Linked DNA regions of Homo sapiens: all the other regions are linked to region 3. The links come from fine-mapping of genetic effects on gene expression. A gene starts in region 3. Each other region holds a variant in brackets. All regions are shown on one strand. Distances are between the middles of the regions.

What was found. PIP is the estimated chance that this variant, and not a neighbour inherited with it, causes the effect.
Region 1: its variant is the best candidate, but not a certain one, in a credible set for the expression of CCDC191 in nasal epithelium (TOPMed, PIP 0.50).
Region 2: its variant is the best candidate, but not a certain one, in a credible set for the expression of CCDC191 in whole blood (INTERVAL, PIP 0.63).
Region 4: its variant is the best candidate, but not a certain one, in a credible set for the expression of CCDC191 in whole blood (INTERVAL, PIP 0.64).

What each region holds. Positions count from the first base shown.
Region 1 is chr3:114,030,817-114,034,988 of GRCh38, forward strand. CCDC191 (coiled-coil domain containing 191) reads right to left here. Exons shown (of 17, transcript NM_020817.2): 6 at 4,109-4,172; 7 at 810-963. Among named protein-coding and RNA genes, the nearest start is that of CCDC191, 24 kb to the right of the region's middle. The variant C/T (reference allele first, on the strand shown) is at 2,314.
Region 2 is chr3:113,969,368-113,973,539 of GRCh38, forward strand. The region is part of intron 16 of CCDC191 (coiled-coil domain containing 191); the gene reads right to left. It also overlaps a transcript of ZDHHC23 not described here. Among named protein-coding and RNA genes, the nearest start is that of ZDHHC23, 23 kb to the left of the region's middle. The variant C/T (reference allele first, on the strand shown) is at 2,213.
Region 3 is chr3:114,054,555-114,058,726 of GRCh38, forward strand. CCDC191 (coiled-coil domain containing 191) reads right to left here and starts at 1,972. Exons shown (of 17, transcript NM_020817.2): 1 at 1,823-1,972. The coding sequence starts at 1,912. QTRT2 (queuine tRNA-ribosyltransferase accessory subunit 2) reads left to right here and starts at 2,183. Exons shown (of 10, transcript NM_024638.4): 1 at 2,183-2,310; 2 at 2,445-2,552. RefSeq lists an enhancer at 1,714-2,123.
Region 4 is chr3:113,999,488-114,003,629 of GRCh38, forward strand. CCDC191 (coiled-coil domain containing 191) reads right to left here. Exons shown (of 17, transcript NM_020817.2): 12 at 2,969-3,051; 13 at 2,108-2,209. It overlaps LOC105374048 (a long non-coding RNA gene), which reads left to right and starts at 2,202. Exons shown (of 3, transcript XR_924347.4): 1 at 2,202-2,421. The variant A/C (reference allele first, on the strand shown) is at 2,478.

The DNA of each region.
Region 1 (4,172 bases), 24 kb before region 3:
CTCTTGCTAAATCCATTCATTCACGTATTTATTCAATTAACTTTCTCTGAATTTCAGCAATGCCTAAGGCCCTGGGGTGGGTGTTGTAGGATATGTAAAATATACATATTTATCTTTTCTCATCTAACCCTCTCATTTACAAATCTGCCCAGTCAGTCCTTTTACCTGAAATGTTATAATCCCAAAATTCATACTTTTATCAATCCCACTTTATTGAAGAAAACTGCTTAAGTAACCTGAAGAGGATATTCACTTTTATATTAAAAATCAGCAAGTAATTTTTACAAAAAGATAAAGTGAAAGAAAGGAAGAAAAGGTAAAATAAAATATAGACCATTAAAAAGAAAAGCACAGGTTTAAGTGTATCATTGCTTTAGGATCAGAGCTACTAAAAGGCAAGTAACCAGTTCTTGTATCTTCTGAATAATCCAGAACACAATGGTCCTTACAACTGTCAAAGTGGAAGCCAAGATTTCAAAAACTGCCAGAGAGCTACCTTAGTTTAAGGTTAATAATAGTTAAATGCTATTCTGAAGAGGTAATTTAGGAAGAAGTCCACAATTTACCCCCCTCACCCCAGTAATTTCCCAGGATCCCACCAGAGTATACAAAGAATAGCCTCAGAACAGGGGATTTGTGTACTGCCCTGCATACCAGGTCAGCTGGGCACAAAGAACAAATGGCGTGGGCAGTTTTGGTATTTGTGATGAGGTTCAACTGGACTTAGTTTTTATTTTATCCCATCTCTGATGGAGCTCTTTGTCATTTATACTACAGAATGCTGAGTAAAGAGACATTGCAATTCCCACCTGTTGATTTTCTTTGAAAGTTTGGATTAATACTTCTTTCAATTTCCTTTTTCTTTCCTTCACCATTTTTTCCTCATCTGGAAGAATGTGAGTACTTTGAAACATGACTTTTTCTGAACTATTTTGAGAATTCTCTTCTTGCCTTTTCTTCTCTCTATTAATAACAATTTAAAAATACATGTATATTTACAATAGATTTAAAAATGAGCAATTACAACCTACTGTAGCAGAATAATCACTGAATTCTCCTTCGGAATACACATATTTTTAGATCTGGCTCTAAAACTACATAGTAGGGTAATTTTTTTGGAGACTTATTTTATTCCTTTATAAAATACAGATTAAATGAAATAAAATTGTTATAAAGTACTTTGAAAAGTAGAAAGTCTTATAGATACTTTAGTATTTTTATTGAGTTGCACACTGAGCCATACTTTGATCAAAATTTGAGAGTTAACAACTACAAGATAGTCTCTAATATAGACATAAATTATCTCCCATAGAACGAGAAAAAAAGGATTCTCAAGAAAGGAATGAGATTCTTACTAAAAGGCCTCTTATAAGGTTACTAGAAAGAGGAATAACAAAAGAATCAGGTGTTATTGAATAAGGAGGGAATGGAATCTAGAATAATTTTAAAATAGCTGAAAAGAGAAAAAAATAGAACTTAAAAAGGAAAAGGACTTTAGGCAAGTAACCAGAATTATTTTAGTAACTTTGTTGCTCATCTTTCTGAGCATCCTCTTTTTTGCCCACCTATCTATTCTTCCTCATCCAGGCCATCCCTCTTTTGCTCACCAATTCAAACAAGCTCATAGCTATGGCCTTCCTACTGTAGTGCATTTAACTGCACAGGTATATGTATGTGTATAAAGTATATATTATTAATGATGTGGTAAACATAGCACCTAGTCAGGAATCAGAACTCATGAGCTCTGGCCACAAACCAGCTAGTCACCTGATCTTTCTTGAACTTTTAGTTCACAGTTGTGGAAACTAAAATGGAGAAAGATGCCAGAGTACCCTACCCCTTCTCTCACTCATTCTCATATATGTTACAGAGGGTACACAGTGTTATGTTGTATTATTGGTAATGTTAACCTTCATCACTTGCTTAAGGTGGCTTCTCCAGTATAGAGTTATTATTTTTCCCTTTGAAATTAATAAGCATCTTGAAAGAGATAACTTTAAAACTAGGCAATGAGGCAGATTTAAGATAGCTTACAAATAGGTTCAAAAGGCCTATCAACAATAAAAATGTTATTGACTTTTTCCAAACTATGAATGCCATAACAATGTTATATTACATGGTTATAGACAGGTGATAGTGATTGTCAAAGAAATACAGTTCTAATACCATGAAACTGATTTTTTAAAATAACATTAGAATATATATCTATTTTAAAAGAAATATATGCTCATTGTGAAAAACTGGAGAAGTATAAAAGTCATCCATATTTCTTTTTTTTTTTTTTATTTTCTGTTTGCGATGGAGTCTCACTCA[C/T]TCTGTCACTCAGGCTGGAGTGCAGTGGCATGATCTCGGCTCACTGCAACCTCTGCCTCCTGGGTTCAGGCGATTCTCCTGCCTCAGCCTCCCGAGTAGCTGGGGTTACAGGTGTGTGCCACCACGCCCATAAAAGCCATCCATATTTCTACCCAGAAAAAAAGTCAGTCCTGTTTCATTGTACAGCCATGACTTAGCAATTTCTCCAATATTTACGAAAGTCTGTTATTATAAATAATGTTGTTTAAATTATCTTTCTGCACAAATCTTTGTCTGGATTTCTGATAATTTTCTTAGGGCAGTTTTCCTAAGGCTGTAATTCCTAGGTCAAGGGATAATACTATTTTACGGCTCTTGTTGTTTACTGCCAAATTGCTTTCTGGAAAGTTTAAATCAGTTCATCCACCCAGAAGTAGAACATATTACCTATCTCACTGTAACCATGGATAAGATCTTAACTTTTAAAATAAATGACTGGTCAGTGAACATTTGTTGAGTGCCCACTGTGAGCAGAGCATCCTACTACCATTAAACGTTACTTGTTTTCACAATTTATTTTAGGTCAACCTAGTTTTTCCAGGGCTTGGGAGCAATATGAAAAGCAAGGCTGACCTTAGAAAGAACTCACTAAAACACCAGTGATTGCTTTCTGAAAGGAATGGCATCTGGAGGAAGCCTCAGCCTGGCACTTGAAGAAGTAAAGCACATGTCCACTGCTGAGCTGTTTTAAACTGGGTAGAATAAGAGCAATCAAGAGCACAGGGGGGAAAGCTGTGTAGGCTGATGGGGGTGGAAGGGATTATCTAATAGGTCTTTGTGGCCTCTCAGTTCGAGTAGTCAGACACTTCAGTCATGCTGTTCCAAGGCTTTTGCAGTTCCTGCATCAGTGCTGTTTCTCAGAATAAATACATTAGTTATTTCACTTATGAAGCTCATTTTCTGCATGAGGATGGATAATAGTACTACATCCTGTGAGGACTATTTTCATCTTCCTCTTATGTCAGATATTCTTTTTCTTTATCAGTGGTAGTAAGGCAGTGGTGACTTTCCATATGTTTATCAGAAAATAAGACACACAATTCACAACAGGATAAGACACAATTACTGAACATGTTCAACCTTAAAAATATTATCTAACCAAAGAAATGCAAACTAATCAATGTAATACCTATTAAAAGTGTAAAAATATTGAAAATGATGATACTCCCTAAGGCTGAGAAGAGTATGATAAACTGGCCTGCTGCTGATGATACAGTAAACAAGTATCATCAGCAAAACAACCCATTTTGAAAGCAATTTGGCAATGTTTCAAGAGTCAGAAAAAGACCTGTGTCATTTAACTCAGAAATTATGCTAAGAATTTATTCTAAGAATATAATACAAAAGAGTGAAAAAACTCTATGCTTAAAGATGCTCATTGCAATCTTATAATGGTGAAAAATCCAAAATAGCTGAAACATTTACCAGTATGGGGAGGTGGTCATTACATAAATTATGGTATAGGAACTCAATGGAGTATTATACACATCCCAGGACTCCAGGCAATGTGTTAATTACAACAAGCAGAATTACAAATTAAATGTACTTTATGGTTGTATAATTAAGTATGGAAAGGGACCACGTCAGGAGGAACATGGAAATATGAAATTAGTTAATTTGTTAAGATGGTGGAATAGTGAGTGATTTCTCTTCTATGTTTTGTTATTGAATGTTTGTGCACTTCAAAAACTTCAGAGCATTTCTAAAATGACTGCTTAAACAGAGAAACCCCACAGTGCTTATCACACTGGCTTACATTTTCCATGCTGCTTTCACAGTGCGTCTCCTCTCAATTATCTCCCTCCGCAGCTTCACCATCT
Region 2 (4,172 bases), 85 kb before region 3:
CTATTTTTGCTTTGGTTGTCTGTGCTTTTGAGGTCTTACACAAAAAATCTTTGGCCAGACCAGTGGCCTGGAGCATTGTCTCAATGTTTTCTTCTAGTAGTCTCATAGTTTCTGGACTTAGATTTAAATCTGTAACCCATTTGGATTTGATTTTTGTGTATGGTGAGAGAAAGGGGTCTCATTTCATTCTTCTGCATATAGTTCTCCTGTTTTTCCAGCACCATTTATTAAAAGAGTGTCCTTTCCCCATTTTATGTTCTTGGCACTTTTGTCAAAGATGAGTTGGTTGTAAATGTGTGGATTTAAATCTGGGTTCTCTATTCTATTTCATTGGTCTATATGCCTGTTTTTATGCCAGTACCAAGCTGTTTTGGTTACTATAGCTTTGTAGTAAATTTTGAAGTCAGGTAGTGTGATACCTAGAGCTTTGTTCTTTTTGCTTAGTGTTGCTTTGGCTATTCAGGGTCTTCTGTGGTTTCATATAAATATTAGGAATTTTTTTTCTATTTCCGTGAAGAATGTTGTTGGTATTTTGATAGAGATTGCATTGAATCTGTAAATTGCTTTGGGTAGTATTGCCATTTTAACTATAAGAAGTCTTCCAGTGCAGGAGCATGGCATATCTTTCTATATGTTTGTGTCCTCTTCAATTTCTTTCCTCAGTGTTTTATAGTTCTCAGTATATAGATCTTTCACTTCCTTGGTTAAAGTGGTTCCCAGGTATTTTATTTTCTTTGTAGCTAGTTAAGGTGGGATTGTTTTCTTCTTTTTCAGATTGTTCACTGTTGGTGTATATATTAATAAATGCTGCTGATTTTTGAATGTTGATTTTGTATGCTGCAACTTTACTGAATTTGTTTGTCAGATCTAACAGTTTTTTTTGGTGGAGTCTTTAGGTTTTTCTAAGTATAAGAGCATGTCATCCGTAAACAAGGCTAATTTAGCTTCTTCCTTTTCAATTTGGATACATTTTTTTTAAAGACAGGGTTTCTCTGTCACCCAGGCTGGTCTTGAACCCTTGGCCTCAAGTGATCCTTCCATAGTGGCCTCCCAAAGCCCTGGGATTACAGCCATGAGCCATCACATCTGGCCTGGATGCCCTTATTTTTTTCTCTTGTCTAACTGCTCTGGCAAGGACTTGCAGTATTATATTGAATAAAAGTGCTGAAAGTGGGCATTTTGGTCCTGGCCAGGATGTTGATTTTTCTTTTTTATTATACTTTAAGTTTTAGGGTACATGTGCACAACATGCAGGTTTGTTACATATGTATACATGTGTCATGTTGGTGTGCTGCACCCATTAACTCATCATTTAACATTAGGTATATCTCCTAATGCTATCCCTCCCCGTCCCCCCACCCCACAGCAGACCCCGGTGTGTGATGTTCCCCTTCCTGTGTCCATGTGTTCTCATTGTCCAATTCCCACCTATGAGTGAGAACATGCGGTGTTTGGGTTTTTGTCCTTGCGATAGTTTGCTGAGAATGACGGTTTCCAGCTTCATCCATGTCCCTACAAAGGACATGAACTCATCATTTTTTATGGCTGCTTAGTATTCCATGGTGTATATGTGCCACATTTTCTTAATCCAGTCTATCATTGTTGGACATTTGGGTTGGTTCCAAGTCTTTGCTATTGTGAATAGTGCCGCAATAAACATGTGTGCATGTGTCTTTATAGCAGCATGATTTATAATCCTTTGGGTATATACCCAGTAACGGGATGGGTGGGTCAAATGGTATTTCTAGTTCTAGATCCCTGAGGAATCACCACACTGATTTCCACAATGATTGAACTAGTTTACAGTCCCACCAACAGTGTAAAAGTGTTCCTATTTCTCCACATCCTCTCCAGCACCTGTTGTTTCCTGACTTTTTAATGATCGCCATTCTAACTGGTGTGAGATGGTATCTCATTGTGGTTTTGATTTGCATTTCTCTGATGGCCAGTGATGATGAGCATTTTTTCTTGTGTCTTTTGGCTGCATAAATGTCTTCTTTTGAGAAGTGTCTGTTCATACAGATGTTGAATTTTATTGAATGCCTTTTTGGACATCTCTTGAAATAATTATATGGCTTTTGTTCTTGGTTCTGTTAATGTGATGTATCATGTTTATTGATTTGCATAAGTTGAACCATCCTTGGATCCCTGGGATAAATCCCACTTGATCATGGTGAATGTTCTTTTCAACGTGTTATTGAATTTGGTTTGC[C/T]GGTATTTGGTTGAAGATTTTGCATTTGTGTTCATCAGGGATATGTAGTTTTCTTTTTTCTTATCATGTCCTTGTTTGGTTTTGGTATCAGGCTAATGCTGGCCTGATAGAATAAGTATGGAAGTATTCCCTCCTCTTCAGTTTTTTTTTGAAGAAATTGAGTAGAATTTGTATTAGTTCTTCTTTAAAAGTTTGGTACAATTTAGCAGTTTGAAGCCATTAGGACCTGGGCTTTTCTTTTAGGTGAGACTTTTTAATTACAGCTTCAATCTCATTACTTATTAGTGGTTTGTTGAGGTTTTCTGTTTCTTCATCATTCAATCTTGGTAGGTTTTATCTGTCTAGAAATTTATCCATTTCTTCTATGTTTTCCAGTTTATTGATATATAGGTGTTCATAATAGTCTCTAGTGATTCTTTGTATTTTTGATGTCTCAGTTGTTATGTCTCCTTTTTCATTTCTGATTTTGAGTCAGAAAAAGTCTCAATTCATTTATTTCTGCTTAGATTTATATTATTTCCTTTCTTCTAATAATTTGGGGTTTGGTTTGTTCTTGCTTTTCTATATTTCCTTGAGGAGCATAGTTGACTTATTTTTTGAAGTCTGTCAACTTTTTTGATGTGTTTATTGCTATAAACTTCTCTCTTAAAAGAAGTTACTGCTTTTACTATAACCTATAGATTTTGATCTATGATATTTCCATTTTCATTGGTTTCAAGAAATTTTTAAATTTTTTCTTAATTTCTTCATTGACCCATTGGTTGTTCAGGAGCATGTTGTTTAATTTCCTTCTATCTGTGTAGCTTCTGAAGTTCCTCTTACTGATTCCTAATTTTATTCTATTGTGGTCAGAATAGATACTTGATACAATTTCTGTTTTTTGAATTTGTTGAGAGTTGTTTTGTGGCCTAAGATATGGTCTTATTATGGAGGATGTTCCATGTGCTGATAAAAAGAATGTGTATTCTTCAACAGCTGGATAAAATATTCTTTAAATGTCAGACCTATTTGGCCTGGTTTCTGGTTTAAGTTTGATGTTTCCTTGCTGATTTTCTTCTGGATAATTTGTCCACTACTGAGAGTGGCGTGTTGAAGTCCCCTATGATTGTATTGCAGTTATCTCTCCCTTTATTGTTTGCTTTATATACTTGGGTGCTTGATGTTGAGTGCATAGATATTTATAATTGTTATATCCTCTTGCTGAATTGACCTCTTTATCATTATATAATGACCTTTCTTTATTTCTCTTTATAGTCTTTGACTTGTAGTCAGTTTTATCTGATATAAGTATAGCTATTCCTGCTGTGTTTTTGGTTTCTACTTGCTTGGAATGTCTTTTTCTATCTCTTTCAGTCTATGTATGTCTTTACAGGTGAAGTAGGTGTCTTATAGGCAGCATACAGTTGGATCTTGTTTCTTTATCCATCAGCCACTCTATGTCTTTTAATTGGAGAACTGAGTCCATTTATATTCAGTTATTGATAAGTAAGGACTTACTATGGCAATTTTTTCTTTCCTTGTTTGCTGGTTGTTTTGTAACTCCTGTCTTCCTTTCTTACTGTTTTCCCTTGTGGCAAAACGATTTTCTCAGGTAGTATGTTTTAATTTCTTGCCTTTTCTTTTTAGAAATCCCCCAACATTTTGACTTTTTCTTGTTTTAGTTTCCATGTTTTATATTACCTCTTAGCAGGCTGCTGTAGCTATTACTGTTTTTGCTAGATGTGTCTTTCTGGCTTCATACTAGAGTTATGAGTTGATTGCACACCACAATTACAGTATTAGAGTATTCTGGGTTTGTTCATGTACTTAATTTTATCAGTAGGTTTTCTACTGTCAACTGTTTTCTTTTTGTGTTAGTGTTTTTTTCTTTCAGATTGAAGAACTCCCTTTAACATTTCTTGTAAGATGGGTCTGGTGGTGGTGAATTCTCTCAGCATTTGTTTTTCTGAGAAAAACTTTC
Region 3 (4,172 bases):
TGAACCCGAGAGGCGGAGCTTGCAGTGAGCCGAGATTGCACCACTGCGCTCCAGCCTGGGCGACAGAGCGAGACTCTGTCTCAAAAACAAACAAACAAACAAACAACAACAACAACAAAAACTGGGGAATGGGGCGAGGGTTAATCAATCTGACTTTTACTGTTTTACAAAGCAGAAAATATAAATTTCCACCCAGATCAGTCAGGTATTAATCTGAAATTAGAAGTAAAACTATCAGGACATTTCCTTTCTTCAACCTCTGAAACTCCCAGAAGCTTGCAGAATTCCCTCTAATAGTCACTTAACAAATAGAGTTATCTTCTTCACTAAAAATTCAGGTGTGTTTTTAAAATAAGGGGATATCCTGATGATTTGTCATTGGAGCACTAAATCTCTTTTGGTTTGGCGTTCCCAGTTCATGAATTGCTTCTTACTCAAATATACTCTTTAAAATAATAATAATAATAATAATAATAAAATAAGGGGATATCTAAACTAGCATACTGACACATGGAGGTGGGAAAAATATAATACTCTTTCACTTACCTAACACTTTACCTTCAAAGCATCTTACTGATAACTAACGCAGCTGTACTGCTTAATAATTTTGTCACTGCAACAAAGAAAGAGCTGATCTAATTAAAATACAACTGAACTTGAAGAAGCCCTATGTTTTTACCTTTTTTTCTCTAGGCAGTAATAATGAGCACTAGCAGCAAAAATCCTTCCTTTTGGAGTCCTAAGAAATTATTCTAAATTTTTACCTTTCATCATCAAGTCCATATCTATATCCTATCTTGGATCCAATACATTATGCAACTGATGTATTGAAATAGCAGCAGCCTCAGTTTCCAAGTCTCCCTGATGCTTCAGTCTGTGCCCTCTAGTATCTAGGGCAACATATTTGTCATGTGGAATATGTCCAATGCATTTAGCTGGTAAATTTAGAATAAATCGCAAGAACAATCGCCTGGGGCCCTCAAAAAGGCCACATACATCTACAGAATATTATTTAGGAAAGTATAACTTAAGGGTGAAAACAGCTGGTGAAACTGCTCTGTAGCTGAAAGCTGAGAAGCTTCTCCATTTTAGTACTCTCATTTAGATTTTAAGCATCTTTTTGGGGACTGTTAAAAAGGTAGTCTGTGGAAAGCACACGGTGCAACTGTGACTTTGCACATGTCACATATGTTTCAAGTTTAAAATGGGGTTATTATTTTTTTCTTATCTTCAGGTGCTAATGCATCCAAATGGGTGATAGATACGGAGAGAATCTATTTTTTGAAAGTTGGTTGAATTTAGAAATTACTATGTGAATCAAGTATTAATGTATTCAATATCCATTTGCACTCCTGAGTTTATTTAGATACTTTACGTAAAAGTGAAGGGGCAGGAATATAGGCAGGGTATTTAATGTGAAGCTCTCTCCCGTTAATAAAGATCAATTACCCCAAGATTTGCAAAAAAAAAAAAAGAGAGAGAAAAAGAAAGAAATGTGCGAGAAGTTTCCTAAAATTTAAGGTAGGGGGAACGGAGTTTGCAAACTCCTTTCACCCCGATGGGCATTAGCAGACACCTCCGGTTTTAGAAAAGCGTTACAAACAGTTCTTCCACGATGCTGCCCACCAAAGCCGTAATGTGCCCAGACCCCAGAGCTCCTAGAGCATTTCACTCAGGGTAATGCTGGCTTTGGGGCGGTCAAGGCAGGGGCGTGTCAGCTCAGGATGAAGAGGCAGGAAGCACAGACGGGCCGCGACTGGCTTCCTGACTGCGCCGCGCCTTGGGAAAGTCCCCGCCCTCCAAAGCTCTCGATTGGGATCACCTTGGGACTCGGCTTCCTTGTGAACCGTTTCCAGCGATTCAGCCCCATCCTTTTCTTTGAGAAGGACCTTCCCTGAGGCGCCAGGAGCATTTTCCAAGTTCGAGCCCGAACCTCGGCCAAAGCTGCAGCAACCGCCCTTCTGCCCGGGCTGCCTCCGGGTCACGCTGGGAATTGTAGTTCCTCCGCCCGCAAGGAAAGCAGGCATAGGACACCGTCGAACCACCACTCCCACGAGGCTCTGCGCAGGCCGCTCGCGTTGGCTCAGTTACCATAGCAACGGCAGAGGTCCCTCGCTCTTGCCGTCATCAAGGCTCGCTTGAATGTCGGCTTTGCTTTTTTTCTGGCGCCCAGTGATGACGCAGTACTCCCTGATTGGCTCTGCACTGGAGGCAGTGATTTTGGGGCAGAGAATTTTGCAACACGTGGTAGTGAACTGTGAGGAGTTTGAGGGGTCTGAAGACTGAAAGAGTCGAATGGTTTGTTGGCAGGTAAGTGCCCCTTTGCCCTGCTGGTGTGGGAGCTGCTAGAGATGGATGAGTCACGTCGCGTCCAGACGCTTCCTGGTTGTGTTGCAGTAACGGTGATTGTACTCCCGCCATGTCTCCTCTGCTTCCCTTTTCAGGGTGTCCTGGTGGATTGGTTTCTGTAAGTTCAGATTCTCATAAATCGTGTGAGCGTCGCCGACACCTCTGAGATAAAAGGGCCCCTTTCGACTAGCCTCTGCTGAAAGGTAGAGTTTTCAGGAAGTTTTTATTCCGAACTGCCCATGGGAGGGTGGGACCGTCTTCAATCTCTGAGCCAGGTGCCTAGGGAGGTCTGGGGCCATGGAGATGGCCCATGGAGCAAAGATAAATCCAGGCTTATTGGCTTAGCCGAGGTGTTTCCAGAGACAGCCCATTTAGGGGTGATAAATGGGCTTATAAAGCAGAGTAAAGATTTAGAACAGGAGTTTTGAATTCAACTACTTTGTGGCTATATGACCCTAGGCAACTTGTTTAATAACTCAGAGACCCTGTTTTCTCATGCAAAATGGGGACGATAATACCTGAATCACTGGAGTGTTGTAATGATTAAAAATAAATGTATGTGAAGCATTCTGCCAGGAAATGTAAACTAAAGTTGATTTGAAATTGGTGAAAATGAAGTTAGGGAAGCTATGCCCTCGGACTGTTGCAGCGATCCTAGGACCAGCTCTGTAACTGGTCTGTCTGAAAGGCGGTTGAATAAATTGTGCTCATACAAACTATGCAGTACCACGAAGTAGTTTTTTTCAAAAGGGTAAGTTAGCTTTATGTCTCTTCTTCAGGAAAGACGTCTAATGTTTATTCTTGAGAGAAAAGCAAATTGCAGAGAAGTGCATATATTATAGTATAATATGTTTCCATTTTTGTAAAAGCAAACCCTGACCAAAACACTCCCTCCCATATGCAAGTATGTTTAAATATTTGTATGAGAATGGAGAAAGATTGCAGAGACTGGGAGGATGGATTAGAGGCGGGAGGGAGAAAGGGAAAAGAAGAAGAACACTATAGCAAAATGGAAACTAAGATTATAATGTGCTTGTGTACCAGATGGAACTTCTAATAAGCTCCCAGCCTATTAGAGTACAGCGCTGAAAACTAGACTTCAATAATTAAAGTCCTTGCTCTGCCACTTACCAGCTGGGGATTTTATCAGCCTCAGTTTATCATACATAAAATGCAGATAATAATGGTATCTATATTATGCATTTGATCTGAGGATTAATGGAGTGAATATATAAAGAACAGTGCTTAATACATAGTAAATACCCGATAAATGTTAGTTGCTATTATTGTCTTTCTATATGTGAAATTAATTTAACTTTTATTGTGATTACTGACATTTGGAATTCTACCATCTTATTTTGTGTTTTCTATTTCTTTTTTTTGGTCTCTTTTCCTTTCTTGCCTTTTATTAGGTTAATTCATTTTTCTTTATCTTCCCACTTCCCTCTCCAGTGAGTTTGGAAATTATGCATTCTGTCATTAATCGTTTAACAGTTACTTCTGAATTTTTAACACACATACTCAACAAAGTTTAACGTCGTCGTTATCTCTTTCCCCCTACCAAATGGTGTAACGATTTCCGAATGCCTTGGAAAAATCTTCATTTACTGTTTTCTAGAATTGTAGCGTTCTTCATTTCTTTTTTTTGAGACGGCATCTTGCTTTGTTACCCAGGCTGGACTGCAGTGGCATGATTTTGGCTCACTGCAACCTCTGCCTCCTGGGTTCAAGTGATTCTCCTGTCTCAGCCTCCGGAGTAGCTGGTATTACAGGCATGTGCTGCTACACCTGGCTGATTTTTGTGTTTTTAGTAGAGACGGTTT
Region 4 (4,142 bases), 55 kb before region 3:
TCTTAGTATTAACATTGTCCTGTAATTAGAGTAAATGGAAAACTACAACCTAATCCAGGCAGGACTATGAATGTTGCTGTGACTTTAGGAATGAAGGTTTGGGTCACCTGTTGGGTAGAGAATCACAAGCAGCTGAGGTGCTTGCTGAAGGCAAGGGGAATATGGAGGGGTAGTGGAAGAAGGTATTTATAAATACCAGTTACGACCATGTAACCAGTTGTAGAAACAAAAACTGTGTCATGAGTATTTTCTCCTTATTTTGCTATGAATACATTTGTGCATTTTCTTTCCTCTTATTCTTTTATACTGTAACTTTCTATCACAGTATTTAAGTTACTAATATTATATCATTTATGCTATTTAAGTTATTTAAGTATTTAAGTTATGGGATATCATGGAGAAGAGTAAACATCACACAAGGACTTTACCTCCTCTTCTGAGGAATGGTTTAGTATGTTTTTAGTTGTATGCTGGATAGTTGTATCATGTTAGGTGGAATTATGATCGTGCTATTGTCTTTATTTGCAGATTAACTACGGTTTAAGGAGATGTGCATGGGTGCCATGTTGACAAGGGGTGGACTTGTGATGGCTAATTTTATGTGTCAACTTGACTATACCATGGGGTGCTAGATTAAACATTATTTTTGGATGTGTCTTTAAGGATGTCTCTCGATAAGATTAGCATTTGAGTTGGTGGCCTTAGTAAAGTAGATTGCCCTCACTAATGTTGGTGGGCATCATCCAATCTGCTGAGAGCCTGAATAGAACTTTCAAAAAGGAGGAGGAAGGAAGAATTTGCCCCTTTTTGCTTCCTGCCTCCCATCTGGAGCTGGGATATTGGTCTTCTCTTGCTCTTTGACTGAGATTTATGCCATCAACTCCCCTGATTCTGAGCCTTCAGACTTGAACTGGAATTACACCACTGGGTTTCTTGGGTCTCCAGATGGCAGATGGCAGATCATGAGACTTCTCAGCTTCCATAATTGCGTGAGCCAATTTCTCAAAATAAGTCTCCCTCTGTCTATATGTCCTACTGGTTCTCTTTTTCTGGAGAATCCTGACTAATACAATTCTCCATTCAAATTTCCTTTTCATGAAAATACTTCTAATTTCTCCAAATTCTTCATGAAACATACCTTATATGACTTTCTTGATCTCTCTCTCTCTCTTTTTTTTTCTTAGAGATGGTCTTACTTTGCTGCCCGGGTTGGAGCTCAGTGGCACAATGACAGCTCACTGCTGCCTCGAACTCCTGGGCTCAAGGATTCCTCCTGCCTTAGCCTCCCAAGTAGCTGGTGATTATAGGCAGGTGTCACTGCGCCCAGATGATTAAAATTTTTTTTTTATCGAGGCAGGGTCTTAACATCTTGCCCAGGCTAGTCTCAAACTCCTGGGCTCAAGCAATCCTCCCACCTCAGCCTCCCAAAAGTTCTGGGATTACAGGTGTGAGCCACAATGTCTGGCCCCTTGATCTCTTTTCGTCTATGTAGCACATGATGTCAAATACTCTACTACAGTGTCTCTGACACGTTTGTATTTTTAGGCCTTATCTTCCCAAGCAGAATTTAATAACCTTAGAGTAAGAGCTTTTTCTCTTATTTCTTCTGTGTGTATTATTATTTCTTTGTGTATTATCACTTCTTCTTCCATTTGTTCATTCATTTATTCACTCATTAAACACATATCTGCTGGGTGCCAATACAATAGTGAACAACATCAGACTGTTCCCTTAACCCTTATGGAGATCACAGTTTAGTTGGGGATGTAGAAATGAATAAAACAGCCATAAAACAAATGCACAATGATAACTGTCAATAATGTTCTGAAGGGAAGATACTTGATGAGAGTCCACAAAGGGGGACCCAACCTAATTCTGAGTGGAGAGGAGGGTGGGCAGGGCAGGAAAGGCTAATCTGGACAAAGTTCTGTTTTAGCTGAAATCTGAAGAATGAGTAGCTTTTCACTAAGTAAGATAGAGAAAAGAAGTGAGGGTGAGAGAAGAGTATTCCAGATAGAAGTTCTGGGTTAAAGAAGGTGGATAGGGCCACAGTATCACACACAGCAAACCTCAAGATACAGGGACTGACCAAATAGACAATACTAACCATTTTCTTCAGTCTCTTCTCTTCTCGTTTTCTTTCAAGCTGTGCCTCCTTTTCTTCTGCCTCCCTTTTCTGACGTTCCTCCTCTTGGGCCTTTAACTGGGCCTGATTGAGATTAGAACCCAGAAATATCAGAACCCTCAATTTGAACAGAAATGTGATCTTTTATGTTTAGGATAGTCAAGCGTCTACCAAAGTGCCTGTCCTATCTCTGGAAGAAGTCTGCATTTTGTGATAAAAGTAGAAAACTCAATCAACCTGTCATCAGTTACGTAACTTAAAAGTTTCTCCAAAAGAATCCTTTTCTACTTGGGAAGGTAAGACTGATCATAAATAAGATCACCAATCTTTCATTAAAAAATGATTACTTTTT[A/C]GTTCTTACTGTCATCTGTGAAAAACTAACTCCAAGTTAGAAACAGTTTAGGGGGAAAAAGGTTTTCTTTCATTTCACCAGAAAACCCCCAATTGTTGGAACTGTTTATTTTTTCTTGGTAGTTACAAAATTTACTTTGGATAGTCTAGGTCAAAACTTTGGAAAATAAGAACTATCCCTCTTTGCAAATTCAGTAGGTCAGACATCTACCTATAATACACTAATCTTGGTTATGTGTAAATCTTCTAATCTGCTGACTCTCATCAACTTTCATAACATTTTCTTCCTGCTGTGTTAATGATGTTGATGTTTCTGTCCCCCTTATTTTCCTAAAATTGTCACGGAATTCAGGCCACTAGGCCAAAAAACCATTTCCAAAGTTGATGTAACTCTATTGTCTCAGGAGTTCTGAAAAAGCAAGGTTTCATTTTTTAAGAAAGACCTGGACAAATCCTTCTTTTTTGACTCAGTTTGCATTTTGAATCTATTACCAATTTTTCTTCTTCTTGTTTTTTCTTCTTCTCTGCCAAGATCCGCCTACATTCAGCTCGTTGAATTGCTCTCTCTTCCATAGCTAGAAAATAGTAACAGAGTTCTAATATTTTTTATATTGAAAAAATATGAGGAATACTGCAAGAGAAATGTCTCCATTTCATAGTAAAATTTAGTGTTATTATTAGGGTTTTCTTGTAAGTTGAATGTTCACAATCTCAGAAAATATATAGAGATAAACAGAACTTATATACTCTACAGGTTAAAGACCTATTATCCCATCCTCAGCAATGAGGAACAATTTATAAATTAATTATTTTGTTTACATTTTTATTAAAATAATTGTTTACTGATTTATAATGTGCCTTGATGATACTTTTAGTATATGAAACCCAGAAACCAGAATTCTAATTTGATTATATGTTTGATGAATGCAGAAAACTTTAATTACATCTAACAAGTACTTTGAGAGTAGAATCGTTCCTCAAATCCTATTGAATCTGCTAATTTTTCTTAAGTCACTGTACATATGTCTGTATATATAAGAATAACAACAAACAAACTAAAGTTTGGGGTCACGATGAATATATTTGAATCTAGTTTTAAGGCCTGGATATACAGATGGGCAGGAAATGGAATTGTACCAGGCATTTGGAGAACTGGCATCTGAATGAATTTGAGTGTCAGACTCCTGTTCTTGACAGGCTATTAAATATCGATCCAAAAGAAACAAATGTGCAAGATGGTCTGATAATATGACTCTATAATCAGTTGGGGCTTTCATAGGAAGAGGGGCATGGATGGGAGGAGTATCAAGTTCTGCTCACCTAAGCCAGCCAATAGTTACTTTCAGTTCCTTGTGCCATATTTTAGAGAAAAGAATTTAAGTCCAAGTTTTAAGAATTAATAAACAAAAAACTCACCAGGCTATTTCTTACAGTTATTAAGTGTCTGCTTTGCTGAAAAAGAATGGTAGTGCCACAGATGGCGAGAGTGAAATTGTCTCTAAGAAGGCAGAAATAGACTAGGGGATTAAAGTAAGAGACCCCTAAGAAGCAGAGTCTCTGGTAATATGCCCTTTGCCCATCTTTTCTAGATCTAATCATCAAAAGACTACTTGAAAGTAGACTGGGCTTCTAAAATAGCTAACTCCTTGACCAAACAATAATTTTA